Linked DNA regions of Homo sapiens: all the other regions are linked to region 3. Evidence: fine-mapped QTL for protein levels in blood plasma. A gene starts in region 3. Each other region holds a variant in brackets. All regions are shown on one strand. Distances are from middle to middle.

Region 1 (8,184 bases), 90 kb after region 3:
AGAGTGGGTACTCAATGAATTCTTGTCCAGTAAGTAAGTGAATGGATGGGTAAATGAACTTATAAATAGAATGACTTCTTATCTATACCCTGAGAATTTCTGTGACCAAAAGCCATTATACTTTTTCTTCTGCTCTTAGGAAGTCATTGTGGGTCCAGATACCACCTCCTACAGCCTGGCAGACCTGAGCCCATCCACCCACTACACAGCCAAGATCCAGGCACTCAATGGGCCCCTGAGGAGCAATATGATCCAGACCATCTTCACCACAAGTAAGGAGGCCCAGGGTGCCATCCAGCCTTGAGATCTAACTTTGACTGAATCAACCCTTGACTTCCCCTTTGACTTCTACTTTAAAATTTTCAAACAAACCTCTGAAAAGAATCGATTCACTGCTACTACTTGGAAGCCTGAGGAAAGCAAATGTGGGAGATTATGAGCATCCCGGTGAAAGGAAAGGAGGAAGCCCATCTGGATTCAGTCCCCATTTCTATCACCTGCTAGGTGTGCCTTAAGAATGCTACTTCCATCCTATAATCTTTAGCTTCTTCGTCTATACAGGGAGATTAATAATAAATCCTCTGTCACCAGGACCTTGCAAGTGTTCATGAGGTATTGCATTTGAACTCCTAGCCCAGTATGTGGCCCATATAATTGTGTGGTCCTTTTATTGTCAGAGTTCAACATGAGCTGAAAGTCTCTTTCTTTCTCCTTCATCATGCCAGTGTTTACAAAACCTGTCCACATTCAAAATCACAAATGATCTTCCCACCAAGCTGGTATGGTGAGCCCTATGCCCAAAGTTCTAGTGGGGAAGCAGACACTTTCAGAGACTAAATGACCTGTTCAAGACTATCTTGTGAGTTACAGTCAGAGTTGGGCTCAGATATTCCATGCCCAGGGAGCCTCCCCCTGCACCTGTCACAAAGTATCTTCTGCAGATAGCAAACCTGCAAGTTGTTCCATTGATAAGTAAGAGTGGCATCCATTCCTGAGGACCAGAGGAGCTGGCCTTTGGAGAGCCCTGCCTTTGAAAATTCACGGGACAGTCATTCTGCACACATCTGCTGAAGAAAGTGCTTCCCCTTTGCCAGATCTTATGCCAGATGCTAACTATGAATGTATCCTAAAGATGCTCTTATACTAGGGCTGTGAAATAAATAAGAAAACAGCTCATGATACAACCTCAGATGAATGTCCTCAGATCAGAAAAAAGAACTGCTATGATCATCAGCTCTAAGACCCATCTACTAGGCATAGTTCCAAGATTGCCCATTTCTATGAGTTTTTAATTGTTTGCATCACATTATTGCACCTGGAAATTCCCCAGGCATTCTAGTCCATAGAGTTAAGCTAAGAATTAAGCTCCAGCTCAGTCCTCCTGCACTGAGAGCATCACCATTTCTCCTTATTCCACAGTTGGACTCCTGTACCCCTTCCCCAAGGACTGCTCCCAAGCAATGCTGAATGGAGACACGACCTCTGGCCTCTACACCATTTATCTGAATGGTGATAAGGCTGAGGCGCTGGAAGTCTTCTGTGACATGACCTCTGATGGGGGTGGATGGATTGTGAGTACCACCAGGGACTGCAGAGCCCTCAGGCCTAGGGGAAGAGGGAGAGGGCAAAGCAGGGGAGGAGAAGAGGGTGATCTCCTCCTGATGCACTCTGACACCCCCATGTGTGAGGCCTTGCAAGATAGTGCCTGTCACACAGAGGCACTCAGGAATTCTCTCTTAAACAAAAGAATGGGAAACACGCTGGCTACTTTTTGAAACGGGGAGATAAGTTTCTTGTAGTTTATCTCATCCAATCCTCATCAAACAACTCTGTGATGTATAAATGACAGTTGATCATTGAACCCATTGCTTACATTAATTAGCACTGACTAAGCATTTATTATCTACCAGGCACTGTGCTAAGAGTTTAAGATGAATTATTCCGACCCCATTACCATAGGAGCTGGGTAGTGTATTTTTGAATTAATAAACTCTATTTTTTTAGAACAGTTTTAGGTTCATGGCACAATTAAGTGAACAGAAGTTTTCATATACACCCCACACCCACCCACACAACCTCCCCATTATCAATATCCTGCACCAGAATGGTGCATTTGTTACAATCAATGAACCTACATTGACACATCATTATCACCCAAAACTGGGTGGTATTTTTAATCCCTGTTTTTCAGGTGAGAACACCAAGACTTAAGGAGGGGCAGGTGACCACCCAAAGTTACATAGCAAATTAGGGATGGACAGAATGGAGCCTGATGCTCTCTCCACAGTGCCACACTCCTTCCTCTCACAACGATGCCCTCTTTCCTGCAATAGCTTAAGTACACCCAGATTCATCGATATGTTTATAGGTGTTCCTGAGACGCAAAAACGGACGCGAGAACTTCTACCAAAACTGGAAGGCATATGCTGCTGGATTTGGGGACCGCAGAGAAGAATTCTGGCTTGGTAATGCAGCCCTGCATGTTTATATCTAAAATGCCTGATTCTGCCCTCCTTGTCACTTTTCCTAACCCACAGGGACCTATGGGAGAGAAAGAGATGAGGAAGAAGAACTACTTCTGGTGGCAGACACAGAATGTCAAATTCTTAATGAAAAAGACTATCATTTAAATGCTCTGAATCATCAAAATGTAAACCAAAAAGTATCTGAGACAGATCTCAATCAATTTAGAGGTTTACTTAGCCAACGTTAAGGACACGCCCAGAAAAAAAGAACACAAAGCCACAGGAACAGCCTGTGGTCCATGCCTTTTTTTTTTTTTTTTTTTTCCAGAGATAATATTAAGAGTTTTAGTGTTTAAAGGGGGAAAGCCACAGGAACAACCTGTGGTCCATGACTTTCTTTTTTTTTTTTTTTTTTTTTTTTTTTTTTTTTTTTTTCAGAGATAATGTTGAGAGCTTTAGTATTTAAAGGGGAAAAGTGGGCTGGAGGGATATGGTCACATTACTGAATCCACATGTTGCAAGATAAAAAAAAGAAAAAAGCAGAATGACAAAAAAGAGAATGGTCAATTTTGTATTCATCTCACACTCAGTAAATCGGCACTTTACATAAGATAAAGTGAAGATAGAATAACTATCTGTGGAGATATCTGGCCTTTTATCTGTAGCATCTGCTTAGGGACAAAAGGAGAGGCAGTTTCTCCCATGACTCGGCT[T/G]TCAGTTTATTTTTTTTCCTATTGGCAGAGTTAAATTGGGGTCCCAAGATTTTATTTTCCTTTCACAAAAAGTAAAATCTGATTAAGGAAGAACCAAAACTCAGCCCTTATGTGTTAACCTAGCCTTAAGTCATTCTCTGGACCAGTCATAGAATCCTCCTCACTGATATCATTGATATCTTCCCTCCTGTGCCCCAGGTTGTGCTCCAGGTGCTAAGATGGGTTTCTTAGAGCCATAATATTTAACCCCCATAGCACCCCTACAAAGTACTCAATTGCCACCGGGTGGGCAAGGTGTCAGGTGTCAGAAGTGGTTGACTAGTGGGTTGGTAAGACGAATTTACTAACAACAGTATAGGTTTGAAAAAGGAACGTTTATTAGAAAGAAAGAATGCTGCAAAAGGACTTACAGCCCCTGCAGTGGATTTTTCCTTAGGGGTATTTATGGACCTTAAGGCAGGAGCTTAAGGATAATTTGGACCCTATTAGCCATGTAGAACATGATACATGATTACATTTGTAGACATTTTGGTGCCTTAATGTCAGCAAGGGTTGCAAAATGAGTTTTGATATGCATGTATTCCAGAGATGTATAGAAGTTCCAGTTACCTATAAATTTTTGGGAAATAAACCTGGAACCAGATGCTTGCTTGAGATATACGGAAGCCTAATTACCTTTAAATCCCTCAGTTAAGGGGTTTTTGTCTCCGAGTCCTACTTGATGGTCACCAGGTGATTTTTGCTCTCCTCACCACCTCGCATGGATAAAATCACAGCCTCAAAAAGACTGAGTGGTTTGCCCATAGGAGTCTAACCAATGAACAGTTGAGCTGAAATTTGGAATCTCCTAAGTCAACACTACAATCCTATCACCCATCCATTCATCCATGCAATCCACACTTTCCAACCACCTAACTGCAGAGAACATTGTTCTATGCACCACTGCCTACCCCAGAAAATGTTTATCATATTATAATAAACATTTATCTATATTATTCATTGCCCTTCATTTGTAAGGCACTTTACAAAATTTTATTTGTTTGTTTGTTTGTTTGTTTAGACAGAGTTTCACTCTGTCGCCGAGGCTGGAATGCAGTGGTGTGATCTCAGCTCACTGCAACCTCTGCCTCCTGGGTTCAAGCAATTCGCCTGCCTCAGCCCCCCAGGTAGCTGAGATTACAGGCACCCTCCACCATGCCCTCCTAATTTTTGTATATTCAGTAGAGACAGGGTTTCACCATGTTGGCCAGGCTGGTCTCGAACTCCTGACCTCAGATGATCCGCCCACCTTGGCCTCCCAAAGTGTGGGGATTATGGGCGTGAGCCACCGTGCCTGGCCTGTAAGGCACTTTAGAGTTTAAAAAGTACTTTCACCACCTTATCTCCTTGGATCTTCACTAATGCACTGGGAGGTTGGAAGTGGGGCAAAAATGTCAACCCGATTTTACCTGAGCCTAGTATTACTCCAGCAAGCACAAGACTGAGCTTCAAGCACAGGCCTGTGTGATATGGCCCTTTTTTTTTTTTTTTTGCTTTCTGAGATGGAGTCTTGCTCTGTCACCCAGGCTGGAATGCAGTGGCACAATCTCAGCTCTCTGCAACTTCTGCCTCTCGGGTTCAAGCGATTCTCCTGCCTCAGCCTCCCAAGTAGCTGGGACTACAGGCACCCACCACCACACCCAGCTAATTTTTGTATTTTTAGTAGAGACAGGGTTTCGCCATGTTGGCCAGGCTGATAACGAACTCCTGACCTCAAGTGATTCCCACCACCCCCACCCCCACCCCCTCCCACCCCATCTCTGCCTCCCAAAGTGCTGAGATTACAGGCATGAGCCACTGGGCCCAGTTGGCCCTGTCTTAAGTGTACCCAGTTGCCGCTTTTACAGAGTGAAATAGAAATGAGGGCCTCAGTCACCTGTGCTTCTTAGCAACCCTTGCCTGTCATCCACAGGGCTGGACAACCTGAACAAAATCACAGCCCAGGGGCAGTACGAGCTCCGGGTGGACCTGCGGGACCATGGGGAGACAGCCTTTGCTGTCTATGACAAGTTCAGCGTGGGAGATGCCAAGACTCGCTACAAGCTGAAGGTGGAGGGGTACAGTGGGACAGCAGGTACAGTAGTGGCTGCACGTAGAGCCTACAAAGCCATGGAGACCTTCTTGACATTTACAGTTTATTTCTCTAACTTTCATTCCTTCCTCATTAATCCAGCAATTTATTAAATCAACAAATATTTAAGTACCTACTGAGTGCCAATCCAGAAAAACTACAATTCAAAAGTGTTGGGTAGATATTTGGGTCCTGAAACATTGAGTATGTTGGGAATCAGGGCAATCAGGATTGATTTCTAATGACCATCTTTCAAAAAAAGTGTGTCTTTCTTACCCAGTTTTAGATATCAGTTGTAGACTGATTAAAAAAAAAATTCCCCAAAGGCCTTAATATTCATCCAATCCAGCACTTCTCAATTTACTCTGGGTGTATGGACCCACTGGCGATCTTGTGAATCTCCAGATGCTGACACAGGTTGTCTGGGATGGGGCTGAGATTCTGCATCTTCTCCAAGTTCCCTGGTGATGCCAATATAGCTGGTGTTGCTGGTCTGTGGACCACAGCTTGAGTAGCAAACCATCCACTCCATCACCTAGCTGCTTGAATCTCTTCCAAGACATCCCTGCCATGTGGTCATCTAGTCTCAGCCTGCATCCTCATAAATAGAAGGTCTCACCTCTCAAGTGGCCCCTGCATTCCTTGTCTGGCTCATAACCTTCATTCCAGTCTTGAAGATTTCTTGGACTTGAAGTGGTTTTGTGTGGTTTCCTGGCTCCACATAAGAGGAGAAATAAATAAGGAAACAACATGTATTAAGGCCCTACTAGGTACCATCCTCTTTTGTAGATATTCCACCTGCATTCATCTTATTTATTCCTCATAAAACCATTTTATGAAGACGTTGTTTTTATACAGAGGAGGAAAGAAGTTCAGAAGAGCTCAGTGATTTGTCCAAGGTAAAACAGCTTGTAGAAGGTGGATGCAATCCTGGCTGCAGAAAACTGCATCCGACAATGTTCTCAGTGACAAAGAAGGGTCAGGACTGAGAGTGTGGACCACCCCCATGCAACCCATGCCCACTTTGGGTGGCTTTCTGTTATGTTTGTGAGAGCAGAAGAGATAGAAGCTTGGCACGTTTCCAGCCTCCCTGAGCCCTGAAAGAAAACATCCATAAGGTGAAAAGTCTCCAGATAAAAGGTTGCCAAAGCCAGGCTGAGCCTAAGGAGGCACAAAGCTCTTTTGAGATGGCAGTTTAGTGATAATAAAGAGAGACACCCAGGGGCAAACATTGCTTTAGTTCTTGAATCCCTCAAAGAATGTTGGCATTTTATTACCTGGAAATGAATACCTCTTTGGTTGAGATGGCTTCAGGCAAGAAGAAGAATGTTACAGGGCAAGCAAATTCATTAAGCAGCAGGAATGTGGCCTCTGTTCCTCTCTCTTTGTGCTTCCATTGAGGAATGAGCCATAATATTTCCCTTTACTGAGATAACGTTTGTAAGGCTGCATTTTCTTGTGTGATTTGGCTGCACCCAGGCCTTCTGCAGGAGAGCATCCTGTTTCATTAATATCTACGTGCCGTCCTCATGCTCTGGGTAGCATCATCAGTTAAAAAGGTATCTGGGTTCCTTTGACAACTTGCTCCAAATTATGACGGTAGAATGCCTCAGAGTCTTGAAATGTTTGTGCACAGCACTTGTCTGGATTGGGAGTGAGGAGACCCACAAAGCAATGGTACTGAAATGCTTCAAAAATTCAATATATTAAATTACAAATTAGATTTCCAAATAGTAGTACATGTTAATGGGCTTCTTGTCTAAGAATCACGGAACATGGTCTGATGAATACTTTAAAAAGTAACTATGTGATACAGAGACTATTTAGGGACATCTAATGTCTGAAGGGCTTAATTATGACTAATAAATATTTGTATGTGGGAGAAAAGCATGCCATTATTAAATGCATACTTCTCACCTTACTCTCTGAGGTCTTTATAGAAAGGGAATGCAGAAAAGTCATAAAAATAACAATCATAGTAAGTATTTGTATGCCATGCCACCTGTTTAGCATACACCTTTATTGTCACAATGGCACTACTCAGTATATAGAATCAAAGTGCTGGTTCCATTGTATAGATGAGAAAACTGAGGTTCAACAAGATGCTTGACTTGTGCAAGGTCACAGCTAAAAAGTGAAAAGATGGGATTCGAAGCTAGACTCTCCAAAGCCAGCCACAGCCCTCTTCCCACCACATTATGCTGCTTCTGTCGGAAATAAGTACTGGGGTGACACTCATGTCCCATTCAGTTCCGCATTCAATGCTGACTCTGGGATCAATGTTCAAGGCCAGTCCCACACCCAGAACCTTTCAATTGTCACCTCTGGTTCTGCCCTTTACTGTCCAGGAGGGAAATTTCAGCTGAGATTTCTCAGGTCCATATTTTCTGTCTCTCCCAGGTGACTCCATGGCCTACCACAATGGCAGATCCTTCTCCACCTTTGACAAGGACACAGATTCAGCCATCACCAACTGTGCTCTGTCCTACAAAGGGGCTTTCTGGTACAGGAACTGTCACCGTGTCAACCTGATGGGGAGATATGGGGACAATAACCACAGTCAGGTGAGTGGACCGTGAGGGCCCAGAGCAGGCCAAGCTTGGGAAGCTGGAGGGGGCTAATGGAAGTACAATTTAACTCCCTATCCTAGCAGAGACTAGGAGGCAGGAACCTTACTTGTATGACAACATGTTTTTCCCAAGGCAGTGAGCAATCTCAAGGACACTGCAGGCCAGGTAAAATAGAAACAGCACAGGTTAACCCTTGACAGTCCCAAGGACAAACACTGGTCAAATGGATTCCAAAAACAGAACGCTTTACTCAGACAAAATCTCTGTCTGAACCCCAAAAGTAAAGCAGATAAAAGTGGAGGCCATTTAGGTGAAGCAGGGTTGAT
Region 2 (8,184 bases), 45 kb before region 3:
TTCCTACGAAGTGTGACTGAAACTCTAGCCATATTTTGTTTTTGTCCTTATTCCCTGGAACACAGACCCAGCAGAAAAGGCAACCAAGATGTTGGGGGAATTGCCCCACACATACAGGATATATGTCAGATTCTAAGAAATGCCATAGGGATTCCAAGGAATAAGGGAGACTTTTCATCCTGAGCTGGCACAGGAGGTCTTTGAGGAGATAGGATTTCAGCCAAGCAGTAAAAGGTAGATTGGATTATTTCAGGGGTGTGGGGTAAATCTTGGGGCAGGCCATTTTATTTATTTATTTATATTTGAGATGGAGTCTCCCTCTGTTGCCCGGGCTGGAGTGCAGTGGCATAATCTCGGCTCACGGCAACCTCCACCTCCCAGGTCCAAGTGATTCTCCTGCCTCAGCCTCCTGAGTAGCTGGAACTATAGGCGCGAGCCACCACACCGAGCTAATTTTTGTGTTTTTAGTAGAGACAGGGTTTCGCCATATTGGCCAGGCTGGTCTCGAACTCCTGACCTCAGGTGATCCACCTGCCTCAGCCTCCCAAAGTGATTGGATTACAGACATGAGCCACCACGCCTATGGTGGCAGGCCATCTTAGTAGAAGGAAGAGAATGTACAAAGAACCAAAGGCAGGAGAATAAGCTCTATTCCAGAGATGGTGTAGAGCAGGAATGCAGGAGCAGTGTGTGAGTGGAGTGGAGGAAAATGAGACCCAAAATGTGGCCTGAGAGCCAGATCCTAAATGCAAGACTAAGGGCAGTGCCCTTTAGGTGAGAAGAGCCACTGAAGTCTCTGAAAACTGAAATGGCATGATAGAAAAGACATTTCGGGGTAACAGGAAGATGACCCTGGTATGATGGAGAGTGGAACTGGAGGGCAAACTGGAGAGGGGCTACTAAAAGGGTTACTAATGGGGAGGCTGTTTAATGTTCCAGGCGAGGTAGGAGGGATCCTAACCAAGGAAGGGTCCAAAGGAGAAGAGGAAACAAAAGTAAGTGAGTCATAAAGAAGGGATCCACAATTAATGGGGTAGGGGTTCTGAAAACAGCTTGGACAGTCATGGAAGAGGACCCTGAGGAGGTGTTAGAGTAGAGCCCTGAATAATGAACAAAATTTAGATAAACAGAAGGGAGTAGGGAGGGCAACATAAGGAAGTACAGCTTTTCAAGGTGAGAAGTCTAACTTGATTAAGTAAAAGTTTTCTGTAGCGGTACTACTGAAGATAAAGGCAGCAAGTTGAAAACTACATGTGTATGTACTATGCTCTTTCTTTTAGTCCTCTTAAGAATGCTATGAGTTCTTCTCTATTAACCCATTTTACAGATGAGGAAATGGAGACTTAGAAAAGATTGTATGCAAATGACCTACATAATTTGTGTGGCCTGGTGCAAAAAGAGCCTTCTTGTTAAAAAATTATTAAGACTTTCAAGGCAGTGACAGCAGAGTAGTAAGCCAAGCCACAAGGCCCTTCTGAGCACCAGGCCCTATACAACTGCCTAAGTCACATGCACATAAAGTCAGCCCTGGTTCTATGACTTGCCCAGCTCCATACAGCAAAAAAAAAAAAAAGAGTCAGAGCTAGAAGTAAAATTGCTCTTGCAGCAGATGAGGAGAAAGTAGGGTTGATGTGAAGGCTCCTGCAGCCTGGATCTCTGCATCATATGGAGTCAAGCCTCCATTATAGCATGAGTGTGAAATAAACTTTTGTTGTTTTAAGCCACTGAAATGTTGGGAGTGTGTATTACTGAAGCATCACCTCTCTCATGCTTACTCATATACTAAAGCACAGAAAAATCTCCTACAGCTGGGGAGGTAGGTCATGAGCCTCAACAGCCAAGACCTGTGTTCTTTCCTCAATATCTATGTCTTCCAATTGCAGGTCACAACCTGTTAGAGAGTCATGAAAACAATCTACTGGGTCACAGGCACATTTTTACACAGGAAATAATTTAATAAGTAAAATATCATAGAAACTGTGTGTGTTACTTATTGCAGTGGTATTTTTTATTAAACTTTTTCCACTACATGTGTGTGTTGAGAGTCACAATAAAAAAAAAAGGTACTTCTGACTATGGGTTATTGTCAAAAATGTTAAAAGCCACTGCTCAACATCATGCTTTTGACACAGGAAAGGAAAAAAAGTCTACACACATCACCCTGACAGCTTGGATACTCATAATACCTTTTGAAAACAGCTAAATGGGAGGACACTTGGGTCCTTATTGTCAATGTAATTAATGCTTTGGATTTTACAGTTTGCCAGATAGAAAGCATTCCAGATCTTAACCAATATGAAACTCAATCTTTGTAATATGCTCCTTTAACTCCATTAATCCTCTATCTCCTCTGCTCCAACTCTTACTCTGCCATAAAAGAATCATGAAGTCATCATTTCGGATACAGGGAACAAACCCTCATTGTCTCATGACAAATTCCGGGCACAGATGTGCCCACTGGAGCAACTACAAAAAAGCAGGCAAGAAGCCACTTTGTCACCAGCACTGGGCCTGGTGCCAGGCCTCTCCCTCTCTTTGAATCCTTGATGGGCTAAGCCCCTCAGAAGTGAGTCATCAAGGATTGCCAGTATCTGCCCAGGGAGGGAGACCCATTTACTTTGAAAAACTCTGCAGGAAATACTTGTGCTTTGCTCTGCCAGAAGCTGTCAAATTTGCTTCTCTCACCACAGCAACTGTGGTTCTGAACCCCACCCCCCGAACCCAACTTATGACAAAAAGAGCATATGAAAGAACTGAAAATAGCCTTTTTTTCAGTTGCTTGGTGAAAATTCCCAGATGTGAGCTGCAATGACTGTGTGGCACTCATATTTCAGTTTTGAGTGTGGATATTTTCTCTGAATGTCTCCTGCAAATTGAATCAAGAAGAACACTATTAATTATTTTAGCCAAGGTTATATTTTTGCTCCAACCTTCTATATGTCCTGATTTTGGGGATGTGGAGGTTTGAGGGGCATTGTCCATGATTATTCTCTGTGCAGTAATTGCCTTCCCCTGAAACAAGATGGTTGCATCAAGCTTGTTGAGTTTTTAACTCTAGAATGTCTATTTTCTTTTCTTTTTTCTTTTTTTTTTTTTTTAGAGATGGAGTCTTGCTCTGCACCCAGGCTGGAATGCAGTGGTGCGATCTCGGCTCACTGCAAGCTCTGCCTCCTGGGTTCACCTGCCATTCTCCTGCCTCAGCCTCCCAAGTGGCTGGGACTACAGGCGCCCGCCACCACGCCCGGCTAATTTTGGTATTTTTAGTAGAGACGGGGTTTCACCGTGTTAGCCAGGATGATCTCGATCTCCTGACCTCGTGATCCACCCACCTCGGTCTCCCAAAGTGCTGGGATTACAGGCGTGAGCCACTGTGCCCGTCCTAGAATGTCTATTTTCTATCGTATTTCCAGATCACCCTAATCTCTGGCAAAGGTGCCTCTTCCATAACCTCCTTCTAGTTTCCAGACTTGCACTCTTGTTTTCACCCACTTTTCTTGCTATCATTTCCAATAGCCAGAGCAATAGTCTTAAATGCAAATCTGACAGCCACTTTCTCTCTTGAAATCCTTCAGTAGTTTTAATGTCTCTCTCCAGACCACATCTCACCAACATTAGCAAAGCTCTGCAGGGAAGGGGACTGGGCTCCTGCTACTCTCAGGGCTCATCCCAGACTATTCTCCTCCTTGGCCTCTGAAATTCACACTAACACACTGTCCTTAAAAGTTTCTGGAATACATCAGTCTTGTACTTGACTTGGGACCTTCACATCTGCTGTTCTTGCTGAACACTATTCTTCTTAATGCTCCAAATTTTTAAAACCTAGTTAGCTTTCAATCTCAGCTATAGTATCACTTTAACAAGAGCTATCTTCTAGCTAAACCAAATCCTTTCAAATTCTCTCCCATCATCTTACTCTTTTCCATTACTGACTGTATTAGTCTGTTCTCACAGTGCTATGAAGAAATACTGGAGACTGGGTAATTTATAAAGAAAAGAGGTTTAATTGACTCACAGTTCCACATGTCTGGGGAGGTCTCAGGAAACTTACAATTATGGTGGAAGGCACTGCTTCACAGGCCAGCAGGAAAGAAAATGAGTGCAAGCAGGGGAAATGCCAGACACTTATGAAACCATCAGATCTTGTGACACTCACTCATTATCACAAGAACAGCATAAGGGAAACTGCCCCAAGATCCAATTGCTTCCAGCTGGCCTTGCCCTTGACATGTGGGGATTATTTCAATTCAAGGTGGGATTTGGGTGGGGACGCAGAGCCAAAAGATATCACTGACCATATCATAATATATAGAAGAGTATAATTTTAACATCTTTCTCCCTCACTAGACTTGGCTTCACAGAAACAAGGACATTGTTTCTTCATTATGTATATTCATATCTTAGCATGGTGCCTGGTACATAGTAGCTAGTAAATAAGTATTTGTTGAATAAATGCTAAAGGCCTTTTAAATGACCTCTCTGAGATCTAAGTGCTTGCAAAATATTTCTTTGACTGGGGAACTGCTATTTTCCTAAGGACAAATAAATGAATCTTCTTCCCTTTTCTTCTTTGGCTTCTGGTAACCAGAGCCGCATATGTATCTCGGATATATTAATCATGTTAGATACATAGGGTTCGAATATTTGTATTTTCTCTTCCCTTGGTCTTGATCTTTTACTTTTAGTGCA[G/C]TTCCTCAGGGGGAGTTTTTGCCATCTTTTTCCATGGTAAATAACATATGATACCACTATTGAATAGCATTACAATCTTTTGTAACAAAACTCAAGATGGCAAGTCACATTTAATTCTTTGAGGAAAGAGGTGAGAGCAAATATTATCTCCAAGGTGTCTGAAGACCTCACATATTTGAGATGCGAAAAGGGAATTGGGCAGCTATCTGAAGACCTGGCTGCCTGTATTAATGCTACTGGACTTGGGCAAACCAAGTCTCAAGCCTCAGACTCTTCATTTACGAATGAGAGGAACTCTGTTGTGCTTAACACACAAGGCTGTTGACATATTGTATGATCGCTTTTAGGTTGAAAAGCAAAACACATGCACACATACCTATGCACACACACCCACTTAAGAATATATGATTATGGGCTGGGTGTGGTGGCTCATACCTGTAATCCCAGCTACTCAGTGCTAAAGCACAAGAATCGCTTGAACCCAGGAGGCAAAGGTTGCAGGGAGCCGACATCATGCCACTGCACTCCAACCTGGGTGACAGAGAGGCTGTCTCAAAAAATATATATATATATATATATAGTTATGATCTCAAGGGGGAACATCTTTGATGAGATCACATTTGATTCTCCCTTTCATGACTAGCTCATGGGCAAAAAAACGTACGTAAAATTTCCCTTTGTTTTACTCATTTTCTCCAGCCTTTCCTCTTGGGTCTTATTCATAAAGCTGCTCAATCATATCAGTCTCAGAGACCCTCACTGGGGAATATCCAAAGACTACCCAGATATTTTCTTTCTACTTCCTATGTTCTCCATCAGAAACTGCCAGTCCTATAAACAGTTTCTCCAAAGTTTCCAGACTTCTAAGTCCTCTAAGGGCTTGTAGCTGATACATTTATCTGGCAAACTAATTAAAGCTAAAAATAACCGACAATGTAGAGAGAAAGATAATTGAGCAATTAATCATAGCATGATGAGGGCTATGGTGGGGGAGGCCCAAAGAAAGGTACAAAGGTTTCCTAGAGGGCTTATGCTGAGCCTGAACACTGGAGGATGGTTATGAGCTTTGCCTTATATTTCTGCACACTAGTTCTGGAACCACACTGAAGTCTAAATTTCTGACAGCCCTGGAGAAATTGCAGGATAGTAAAGGTCTTCCAGGAGGCCACAGGAAGGTTTCTGAGTGTCTTAGTCCATTTGGGCTGCTATAACAAAAATACCATAAACTGGTGGCTTAAACAAAAAATACTTATTTCTTATAGTCTGGGGTCAGAGAAGTCTAAGATCAAAAACTCCAAGATCTAGAATTTCATGAAGGCCCTCTCTTCCTGGTTCACAGAGGATCATCTTCTCTCTGTGTCCTCACATGGCAGAAGTGAAAACAAGCTTTCTCATGACTCTTATAAGGACACTAATTCTATTCATAAGGGTTTCACCCTGATTACCTCATTTAATCCTAATTACCTTTCAAAGGCCCCACCTCCTAATACCATCACATTGGGAAGGAGGACTTCAACATGTTGATTGGAGGAAGGAAAACACAATTACTCAGTTTATAATACTGATGTAATATTGAGTCAAAGAGCTATCTGGCTGCAGAAGGAAACTTATCACATAGGAAGCATGACAAGGTGGGGTCAGTGCTCAAGGTGCATCCCAAGGCCCATGGCAGTAGGAGCAGGAGGAACTCACTGCATGGCACTATAGATAAAACTCAGGACTTGTTGAATGCATCATTCCTCTGGGATCCAGCACTTGTTACCCATCTGCCACGAGGCCAAGTGCAAAACATCTCCCCAGGGATCACCACTCTGGATAAAAGCAATCTAACCAGCAAGGTAGATGCTCATTCCTCGCTGCAAGCCTGTCAATAAGATTTTGGCATTTAGTATGTACCAGGCAGTGTGTTGCAGAGAAAGTAGCAAAGAAGAAAGATCCAGTGCCTGCTCTCAAGAAGCTCAAGGAGGCCAGGCATGGTGGTTCACATCTGTAATGCCACCACTTTGGAAGGCTGAGGTGGGTGGATCACTTGAGGTCAGGAATTTGAGACCAGCCTGGCCAACATGGTGAAACCTCATCTCTACTAAAAATACAAAAATTAGCTGGGCATGGTGGCAAATGCCTGTAATCCCAGATACTCAGGAGGCTGAGGCAGAAGAATCGCTTGAACCCGGGAGGTGGAGGTTGCAGTGAACCAAGATTGCACCATTGCACCCCAGCCTGGGCAACAGAGTCAGACTCCATCTCAAAAATAGTAAATAAATAAGCTCAAGGAATTACCCAAGGTAACAGTCAAGTAAACTGCTGCTGACAAAGCAGTGAATGGACAGAAGTGATTCAGAAGGCATCAACCTGGGAAAAAGGGAAGACCTCCTGGGGCATTTACAGAAGTCCTGTACCACCGAGGATTGGGTGACCATCCTTTTGTCCATGGTAGCTCTCATCTCCATGGCACTCGGCAAATACCAGGGGCTCTATAAATATTTGTTGACTCAGAATTAATTAGTTCCATTTGATTAGTCATTGATCTCTGATTAGCATTTGACAGGGAAAGCAAGGTGACATCTAGTCAGTATCTTTCAGTGGAAAGATCATCAATAGGTTTTGGTATCAAAAATTCTTGGTTTAAGTTCCAACTCTGCCACTCACACCCATGTGAATCTGGGCAAGTGACTTGAACCCTCCAGGTCTAATTTTTTTCACAGTCAACATTAGGATAATATCTCCTTGTGTCATTGTGAGAATTGAATATGAAAATGCACTCAGGTGATATTGAATATGGTAGGTTCTTAGTAAGTATTTGTTCCTAATAATAATGGTAGCAGAAGTGGGTTGATCCTTTAATGTGTGCCAGACAAAGGACATTATATGCATTATAACTTTTAGTCCTTACATCGGCTCCATAAAATGGACCAACTATCACTTCCATTTAGCAGGAGAGAAAACTGAGTCTCAGAGAGTTCAGGCAATGTGTACTATGCCATGCACTGGTCTGAAGTGGAGCTGCACTCTGAAGCCCTATTCTCTCCCATGTCTCTAATCATGATTTTGTTCTCCCACATATGGCCTCCATCTTTTCCCACAGAGACGTCAAGATACTGAAAAGTTTATGCAACTTACACAAGTTCACATGGTTGATCATTGACCATGATGCTGTGATGAAAAAATGCATTCTAGTAAAAGGGACTTCTTACCACGATTAGGCAACAGAGCCCAACACCTCCACTCTTTTTTATAACTGGAAATGATGTGTCATGAGAATACATGGAAAGTTTCAACAATGCCTGACACCGCTATTTCTCTGTTGCTGGTGACTTAGCTTTTCCATTAAGACCCACAAGGGAAGGAGAGCAACAAAATCCCAGCATGTCCCATCACCCAGCCCAGAATGCCCTCCCCCAAGAAGGTTCTGAGGTGTCAGGAAACACATTTAGACTCTGCAGCTGGCGTGAAAATAGTGCTGCATGGTCTGGTTCTTGTCCTCACCATATTCTGTCA
Region 3 (8,184 bases):
TGAGAGTTTTGAGTTGCTATAATCCCTGGGAATTCCCCACTTGCTAACCAGGACCCTGTGTGTCAGCGGGGAAAGCGATTTTCCCAAAGTCACACAGCGAGTTGATGCAGCATCAAGACTTAGACACTCAACCAATGCTCTCCACTCTGCTGTGCTGACCAGGCATGACTTCTTGGTTGATGGCGCAGCTAAATTGCCATAGTCCATCCATCAGAGAAGCTCTCATATGTCTTGCCACACACTCCATATGGTCTTTGAACTTGATTTTGTCCTTTGTTGTCGAAGGAAAAGCAAGAAGAGTTGGAAAAGACCACTCAACAATGATCTGCAAGCAAGTTGGGAAACCTTGACTCTAACAAAATGCATTTAATTAAATGACTGGCCCACTGTGTGGGATCAGAGATCCATCCCGGCTTTGGAAAAGATTTCTGGTAATTATGGAGTCACATGAGACTTTTGGACTGGAGTTAGCACACCAGATGAGATGAATCCCGGGAAGAGGAGGAGGAAGGTTGGGAACAGTGAAGGAGTATGTAATCAGAGTAGGAAGCAGGGGATTCCATGGGGAAGTGGACACTCAGCTTCCTCAGCACTAGTCCTGGCCAAAATTCCACTCATTGTCTGTTCTGTCTGGAAGAAAAAGTATTACATTTAACAGACCTTTAAAGAAATGAGAATGATCTCACCTGAGGCAAACCATGACATTCCTCTGGTCTCTAAACCACAGCCTCCACCAGCAACTCCTGAATAAGAACTGCAAACAAGCAACAACAAAATCAGTCTTTGGCAGGAAGCTCTGTGCAGGGGTGGTGTTTACATGCATTCATTCTACCCTCTCAAGTGGAAAAAAGTGCTTATGCTTCTCAGAAGGATGCAACCATGAGGGATTAGATGCCAAGAGGTATGGCCTCTGCCAAACAGGAGGAAAAATGGTTCTTCATTTCCATAAACTTCCTCTGCTGTAATGTCTAGTGTGGCTTGGTTGCTCAGTTCTGATTGTGACAGTTTTCTTCCTGGAAAGCAGGCATAGTGGCTTCAGACAAGTCATTCTTCCTCTCAGCACCCCACTTTCTGATCTGTGCGATGGAAGCATTGGACACAATAATCCAGTTTCCTTTTCAGGTTCTATGGTTGTAAAAGGAAGAATTTAATTATAAAGCACAACATGTCAAACATTTATTTGTTCCTCCATTACTTCATTCATTCTATAAACATTTACTGAGCTTCTATGATACCCAAGGCTCTATGCCAGGTACAGAAAAAGCAAGTGTGATCACCAGCCTCAGGAAGCCTAGCATCTAGGAGGAAAATCTAGACATGCACATGTGTAATTATACCATGTAGATGCAATGGATGTCCTAATAGAGTTACAAATGCCATAGTGCATAGAAACATCTCTTCCTAGATGGATTTCTTCCATTTAGGAAGCTCCATAGTGAAGTCAGATCAGAAATGGATGATAAATAGATGTGAGGGCATGGAGGTGAGGAGCCTAGGGCATCATCCTAGCATGAACAAAGTTTGGGTATTGTAGAGTACCTGGTGCATATGGACCCATCTACCAGAAACAGAGGCTGCGAACAGTACAGGGATGGAAAACACGTCCTCGTCTGGGCACTCCTTACTCAAATGCCAAAAAGCTTAAGATGCCACATAGCTTTTTGGAGAAAATGCCTTTTACAAGTAGCCTCTCCTAAAAATGCATAAATCATCTCTTCTCTATGTTATCAGAATACACTTATATGATAGTTGTTAACTTAACCCATAATAGTATTCTTGTTTGTCACCTCTGCTAGCCTTTTCCTGCTTTGAGGGCCAGCCTGGTCATATTTGGCTTAGTTTCCCTGTGATTGACCATACCACTTGTGGTAGACACTAATCAACGATTGTAGAATCCTAAAGAACTGGGGAGAGGAGTTCGAGTTTGAGACATTCCCCGAAAAAGCCATATCTATCTAGTTTTCTAGCATGCGCTCTTGTCTTATTTAAAAACTCACATAGAATTATAAATATATTGATTATATGTTCTATACAAATATAGTTTATATACCATATGACATATATTGTACACTATTCTAATATTTTAATCCCTAACCCAAGAGATTAACTCAGTAGGAACCACTCACTGCTGGTTGAGACACAGCTTCATGCTACTGAAATATCCTTTGGCTAAAGCACAGAATTTAAAACTTCCCAAACAACCAACATTTGAATCAGCCAAAATGGATCAAAAGTTCAAATGAGCGGTTTTATGACATGACTATTTATGGGCTTTCTTGCTGTCTGGGAGGGTCACTTTAGCAGAGAATCCTAAAATACTACAGCCAAAGCAACCGTAGGATGACCTAATCGTGTCTTGCTTTTTTTTTCAGATGGGGAAACTGAGGCCCACAGCAACAATAATAACTGTGGGGATGATATCATTTAATATTGAAAATAAGTGGATAATTGAGACCTCCATTATTAGTAGTTAATTTTTAAAAATCAAAGATCTCTCCTAATTAGCTTTATGGAGCAAATAAATATATTTTCCATATTCAAATATGGCTGTGATTTCTACACAAATGGTGTTAACAATCTAATACAGCATAAAACATTGTTTAAATATCATCATACCCTATTCCTAAACAGTAACGTGTAATAGATCTCTGGAGCCCAGTGTTGTAATATAAACACTTCCCAGGTGTATTCCCTTGGTAAAGTTTCATTACTTCTCTAAACGTCAGTTTTCTTGTGTAAAAAAGAGACACTTGTGTCTATCCTACTTACTGGTTACAAGGATATAATAAAAATAGTGAACAAAAATAGTGTTCATAAAGTACCCTGCACAGCACCTGATTATAGACTTAATAAGGGAGGGCTCAATGGTAGTTGCGTTTTGAATTACATTTAATGCTTCATTTTACTTCACTGTCACAAACTACTATGCTCTGCGGCAGGCTCAGAAGTCTCTAGGCACGGGTGAAGTGCTACTTCTCCACTCCCTTAAATGCCCCTGTATGCCCTGAGGATACTCAATGCATGCTAACCACCAAACGAACGGATGACTCAGAGCTTGGAGGAAATCCACGGCAGGCTGGAAAGCAAAGGCGCAGCTTATGGCTCAAGGATTAGGTTGTTACCTTTTTAAATTATTGCTTTTCTTTAAAGAAAGGGCTGTGGGGGACGCCTTTCAGCACTAAGAGAAAACCTCAGAAATCCTTCCCCCTGGAGACCCAGCTGAGAAGACCACACCAGGCACAGGGCATGAACAATGTCAAAAAGCTACTGCCCTGCAGGACACTGGGGCTGGAACAAAGATGCCTCCCAGCAGCTGGGCAAGGCTGGCTCCCACACAAGAAAAGCAGGGCTGATGTGAGCGTCCCGCACGATCCCCACCTGCTGAGACCTAATCCTGGGTTATCTCTCCGCTGGCCCAGAGAAACCTGAAACCCCCCAGGCTTTTGAAGGGCTTTATCTCCTCTTTCCAGGAACTGGGCTCAGTCCCTGTACTCGCTCCGAGGTGCCACTGAGCAGCTGCTGCCCAGAGCCCAGGCGAGCCCTGGTCCCATTTCCAGCTTGACCAAGTACAAGAGGGGAGCCAGGGCTGCGGATCCTACTCCCTCTTGCTCCCCAGGCATCCGTCTCACAATTAGAAAACCCGTGTGGGGAGCAAAGCAAAAATCACATTTCACTAACAGCTACTCGGGGTCGGGGGCGGGCAGGCGGGAATTCCTACTTTCGCCATAAATTGTATGCAAATGGGTTCCTTCCCTGGCCGAGAGCCAGGAGTGAGTGCGTCTTTCATGAGCTAACCCTGTTCCGCTGGGAGGGCTGTTCCTTTAATTCGCCAACTGAAAAAGTGGGAAAGGATGTCTGGAGGCGAGGCGTCCCATTACAGAGGAAGGAGCTCGCTATATAAGCCAGCCAAAGTTGGCTGCACCGGCCACAGCCTGCCTACTGTCACCCGCCTCTCCCGCGCGCAGATACACGCCCCCGCCTCCGTGGGCACAAAGGCAGCGCTGCTGGGGAACTCGGGGGAACGCGCACGTGGGAACCGCCGCAGCTCCACACTCCAGGTACTTCTTCCAAGGACCTAGGTCTCTCGCCCATCGGAAAGGTAAGTCTGTTTTGCCCTCATCACTAGAGATCCTTATGATGTAAGGATTGCATTCCTGGTACCAAATGAGTTGTGATTTTATATTATAATTACAAAACATATGGGGTTTTTTTTTCCACCGCTGGAAAAAAAAGGAGTGTGTATTGGTTATATCAGATGCACCTTGACTTTTCTGGTCTTGTAATTTTGTTTGTTTTAACTTTATGAATAGTCAGACTTGGAAGGAACTTTTCGTAAAGTTGTTATCTTCTGCTGTTCTGCAGAGGAAAAGTAAAAATTTTCTCTTCAACTGCTCTCCTACTTCTAGTCTGGCTGATTCACCTGTATATATCTTTTATTTTGAGGGTTAGGGCAGTAGAGTTTTAAGGCAGACTTTGCTCATAGCCTGCCCCTGGGATGGGTTAGAGGGAGTTTGATAGAGGAGTGCAGGGAGAATATAAAAGTTTATATCTAAACAGCACTTACATAAAGTTTACAAAGAGTTTTGTACCCATTCCCTCATTTGGTCCTCAAAATATTCACCCTGGAAATGAGAGCTGGGGGACAGAAGAGAGGAGGTGGCTCCTGGGCCAGATGAATAACTGACAGGCAGCTAGAGAGTGGTGGAGAACAGCTTTACTGGGGTGCCTAGAGCCAGCAGCGTCCCACATGTCTCTAGAATCACCTCCTCCTCCTCACCTCTCATCACAGAAAGATCTGAGCAACAACATCCCCCAGGTATGGGAACCCTGCTGCCCCTGGTGTACTTTGGAAAGAACACAGGGGTTCTTCTCACCCATCAGTGTTGTAAGAGGAATAAGAGCTTAGGTTTGAAGCCAGAGGTGTTTGGTATTCTCCCCACCACCATACATATGACCCTGAGAAAGATACATCACTTCCTTAATCCTCAGTTTTCACATCTCTAAAATGGGGACAATAGCGTCTGCTGTCGTTTTGAGGAGAAAATGAGGTATAGAAAGATCAGCAATGACTGCTTAATAACTGGAAGTTTGGATAATCATTGTCATTGCCAAAAACTGCCATCACTCTGGAAGTTAAAAGAGGCATTGAGCCAGTCTTGGATTGTTTCTTGTGTGTTGTTCCTCAGCCCGCCCCCAGCCCCCGCTTTTTATCTCACCCAATCTGAGGGTGTCTCACTAGGCTGGCAGGTCTGAGACTTGGCTGTATTTTACAAGCAGGAGGTTGTGTTGGCACAGGTTGGAGAAAAGGTAGTAGCCCGGGGCTGGAAGTTAATGTCAAATTTTGATTCCAGAATGTCAGGAGGTTTTGAGTTTAGGCATCTGCAGATTCTAAAGCTGACAGCTATGAAGTACGATGCTGTTGGAAACTCTTTGGAAAAGCTTTCTGTCCGGAGGGAGGGCAGGACAGGGAGCACCACTTGAAGAATGAATGCCTCTTTTTCATGTTTTTGTAGACTTTTTCCCCCATTTTTACAGAGCTTTCCCATATGTGTTTTAGAAAGGAAAACTACTATCCATCCCAGCCAGGCAAGCCCAATTCAGGACTGAAGAAGATTTATTCAGTCCTAGACAACCAAGTGAAGAGTTTCTGGCTTTGTGCGCATACAAGTCATTTGCAGGAGATGTAAGTCAGCGTGCTTTGGCCCTTGCATTTCAGGAAGGTGACTGCTTTGTGGGGAAGAAAAAGGTGCACAATATGAGTATTCTCTGGTTTGCTCAAACAGGGTAAATTGGACAAGGATTGAAAGGGATGTTGCCAAGCTCTACAGTCATTAAATATTTTTTTCCTCTATGCTTTGTTTTAAAAACCTAGCTTCTCTATTTTATCCCACACTAACCTCCTCCTTCCCCACTCTAAGAAGTGACTAACGTTTCAGCCCTCAACTTTGTCATTCATATAATGGAGATGACAAACTATGTCTCACAGGGCTCTTGCAACATTCAAATGAGGTAATATATGGCAAACACTTGGCATAGTACCTTCCACATATTAAGGGTTCAATAAATGGAAACTTTTCTTAGTTTCTCTGTTTATCATTTTACAAGGACTTGTCCAAGATTAATATTCTAAGATCATGATTTTTAAACTTATTTTTAATGATGAAAATATTCATTACATGAATTTAGGGCAAACCCCCAGTATATGACAGGTAAATGCAGGGCTGCTTTGGTTGAAGTGGGGTCACAAGGTCTAAAACTTACACCTTTGCTCTTAGCCTCTGGGACATTGCCACAGAATCTTCAATGACAAAAAGCACATTTACAAATCATGAAACCAGGCTGTGTGCATTCTGGTTGCCATTCTGCCCTTCAACAAGGATTTTTGCCCCTCTGAGTCACCATCTGTAGCAGAAGTAAGAGCAAGTCCACAAATAGTGTAATAGACAGGAATATGAATGAGAAATAAAAGACTTAACAAAGGCTATTTTAATTAATTCTAATGACAATGATAGCCAAAATATATGATGAGCCTACTCTCTAAACTGTAGGCTTTTGTGGGATCATCCACAGCATGTCTCTGAGGTATGGACTATATTTGTTGGACAAAGAGATGGCTTCAAGAACAGGGAGACTGAATAACTTTACCAAGGTCCTAGAACTCAGAGTGATACAGCCAGGTTTCACACCCAGGTCCCCGTGATCACCAAGTCAGAGGTACATTCTGCCGTGTTCCTTCTGAATGCTTCTCTGCTTCTTGCCTGCCTTTAGAAGGAAAACACTTCCTTTCTGACTAAATATGCCCCTCCAGGCAGACTGTGGCCACCCATAAATACAGCAGTAGCCTGATCATATAACCAGAATGGAATTTGGAAAGAGAATTCAAGCTGACAGAATGAAAAACATATCCCCCTTAATCCTACCCTTTCTAATGCTAACAATAAATTAAGAGCACATATTCTCTCCTCTCTCTCTAGATTTCTATAGACACCTAGCTGTGCTTTCTTACAAGAAAACATATCCACTGGACCAAAGCGCAGCCCCCTTCATGCTGAAGCCACTTCAGTTTGAAACGTAAAAAGTAGGTTGCAAACATTTAGTTGGCTCGAAATATATGTCCTTTTGTGATGGTAAAACACACAAACACAAAGTTAATAGTGTCACATATGTAATAGGAGGGTTTGCCAATGGTTTCTCATCTCATTCTCACTCAGACACTACAAATTATAAATTACTAGCTCAATTTTAAAGAAATCGACACTCAAGGAAGTTAGGTGACTCATCTGAGGTCTTTCCGTAATTGAGGGGCAGAGCTGGCTTTGACCCAAGCTTTCTAACTAATACCCCACTGTTCTTTCTGCTGTGCTATATTGCCTTCTGAAGTCAGGCTGTGCTGACCAAGTTTAGAACCTTAAATGGTGTCTTTCAGTGAATGATCAAGATGGTGGAGAAGCCCCCAGCTGGCATTGGTGCCTATTGATTTTACAGAATAGCCCTGCATGTATCATTTTTCATGGTTCTCAGCAAAGGTCAGCTCTCAATGGTGCAACTCTCTGCCTGGAAACAGGAAAGTTCAAATTTCAGCCCTGGAAGAGAGAAGAATGAAACTAGAGGTAGCAGTCAGGTCACTCCTGCTGATTTTCATCTCAGAAAAGTAGGCACACAGGTGAGCCAAACATCTGGTTTTAAAAGGGCTGATTGGTAGGTAAAGTGAAATCGGCCTTGGGGCCATGAATCCCAGGACAGCTTGGAAATGGTTGTAGGCTCCGAGCCACAAATTGAGCCACAAATTCAGCGGAAGCCTCAGAGAGGAAGATTATGATTCAAATACCTCTCACTCTGAGAAGATTGTAGGGAATCCCCTTGAATCTTATCCCGGGCCAGTTTGAACACCTTCAACATGTGGGAAACATTAGATGAAGGCTCCCTTCCAAGGAGGAAAACCCCCCTCAAAGTGTGACATGACCAGCCTCCTGCAAACCCCAGGCCATAATTCCATTCAATGTAAAAGACAGAGATGGTGAACTTACCTACCTTCGGGGGCTATACATGCTTTGTGACTTCTCTGTAAAGGAGAAAAGTCTGCAAACCAACCTGATTCTAATCCTGGTGGCCAGACATTTTTCAGTTATGCCCTTAAGCCTAAACTCCTTTCCCTCCACCTTGTCTCACATTTCCAGCTTCTCT

Direction of the effects. Alleles are on the strand shown, and positions count from the first base shown. The strength of an association depends on the size of the effect and on how common the allele is.
As copies of T replace G in region 1, the plasma level of the protein whose gene starts at base 3,924 in region 3 goes down (moderate association).
For the plasma level of the protein whose gene starts at base 3,924 in region 3, allele G in region 2 goes with a lower level than allele C (moderate association).

What was found. PIP is the chance, under the fine-mapping model, that this variant and not a neighbour inherited with it causes the effect. The UK Biobank Pharma Proteomics Project read protein levels with antibody pairs (Olink). The fine-mapping took linkage between variants from a reference panel, not from the people measured, so its PIPs are less certain.
Region 1: its variant is fine-mapped to the plasma level of the TNC protein (UK Biobank, PIP above 0.99).
Region 2: its variant is fine-mapped to the plasma level of the TNC protein (UK Biobank, PIP above 0.99).

What each region holds. Positions count from the first base shown.
Region 1 is chr9:115,023,641-115,031,824 of GRCh38, reverse strand. It overlaps TNC (tenascin C), which reads left to right. Exons shown (of 28, transcript NM_002160.4): 23 at 140-272; 24 at 1,420-1,571; 25 at 2,369-2,465; 26 at 5,130-5,291; 27 at 7,689-7,852. Among named protein-coding and RNA genes, the nearest start is that of TNC, 90 kb to the left of the region's middle. The variant T/G (reference allele first, on the strand shown) is at 3,179.
Region 2 is chr9:115,159,078-115,167,261 of GRCh38, reverse strand. The region is part of intron 1 of DELEC1 (deleted in esophageal cancer 1); the gene reads right to left. All of the region lies in intron 1 of LOC124902257 (a long non-coding RNA gene), which reads right to left. Among named protein-coding and RNA genes, the nearest start is that of DELEC1, 21 kb to the right of the region's middle. The variant G/C (reference allele first, on the strand shown) is at 4,687.
Region 3 is chr9:115,113,897-115,122,080 of GRCh38, reverse strand. It overlaps TNC (tenascin C), which reads left to right and starts at 3,924. Exons shown (of 28, transcript NM_002160.4): 1 at 3,924-4,099. It overlaps LOC124902255 (a long non-coding RNA gene), which reads right to left. Exons shown (of 3, transcript XR_007061746.1): 3 at 1-1,125. It overlaps LOC101928748 (a long non-coding RNA gene), which reads left to right. Exons shown (of 6, transcript NR_110950.1): 6 at 2,373-2,542. RefSeq lists enhancers at 2,826-3,645, 6,969-8,168.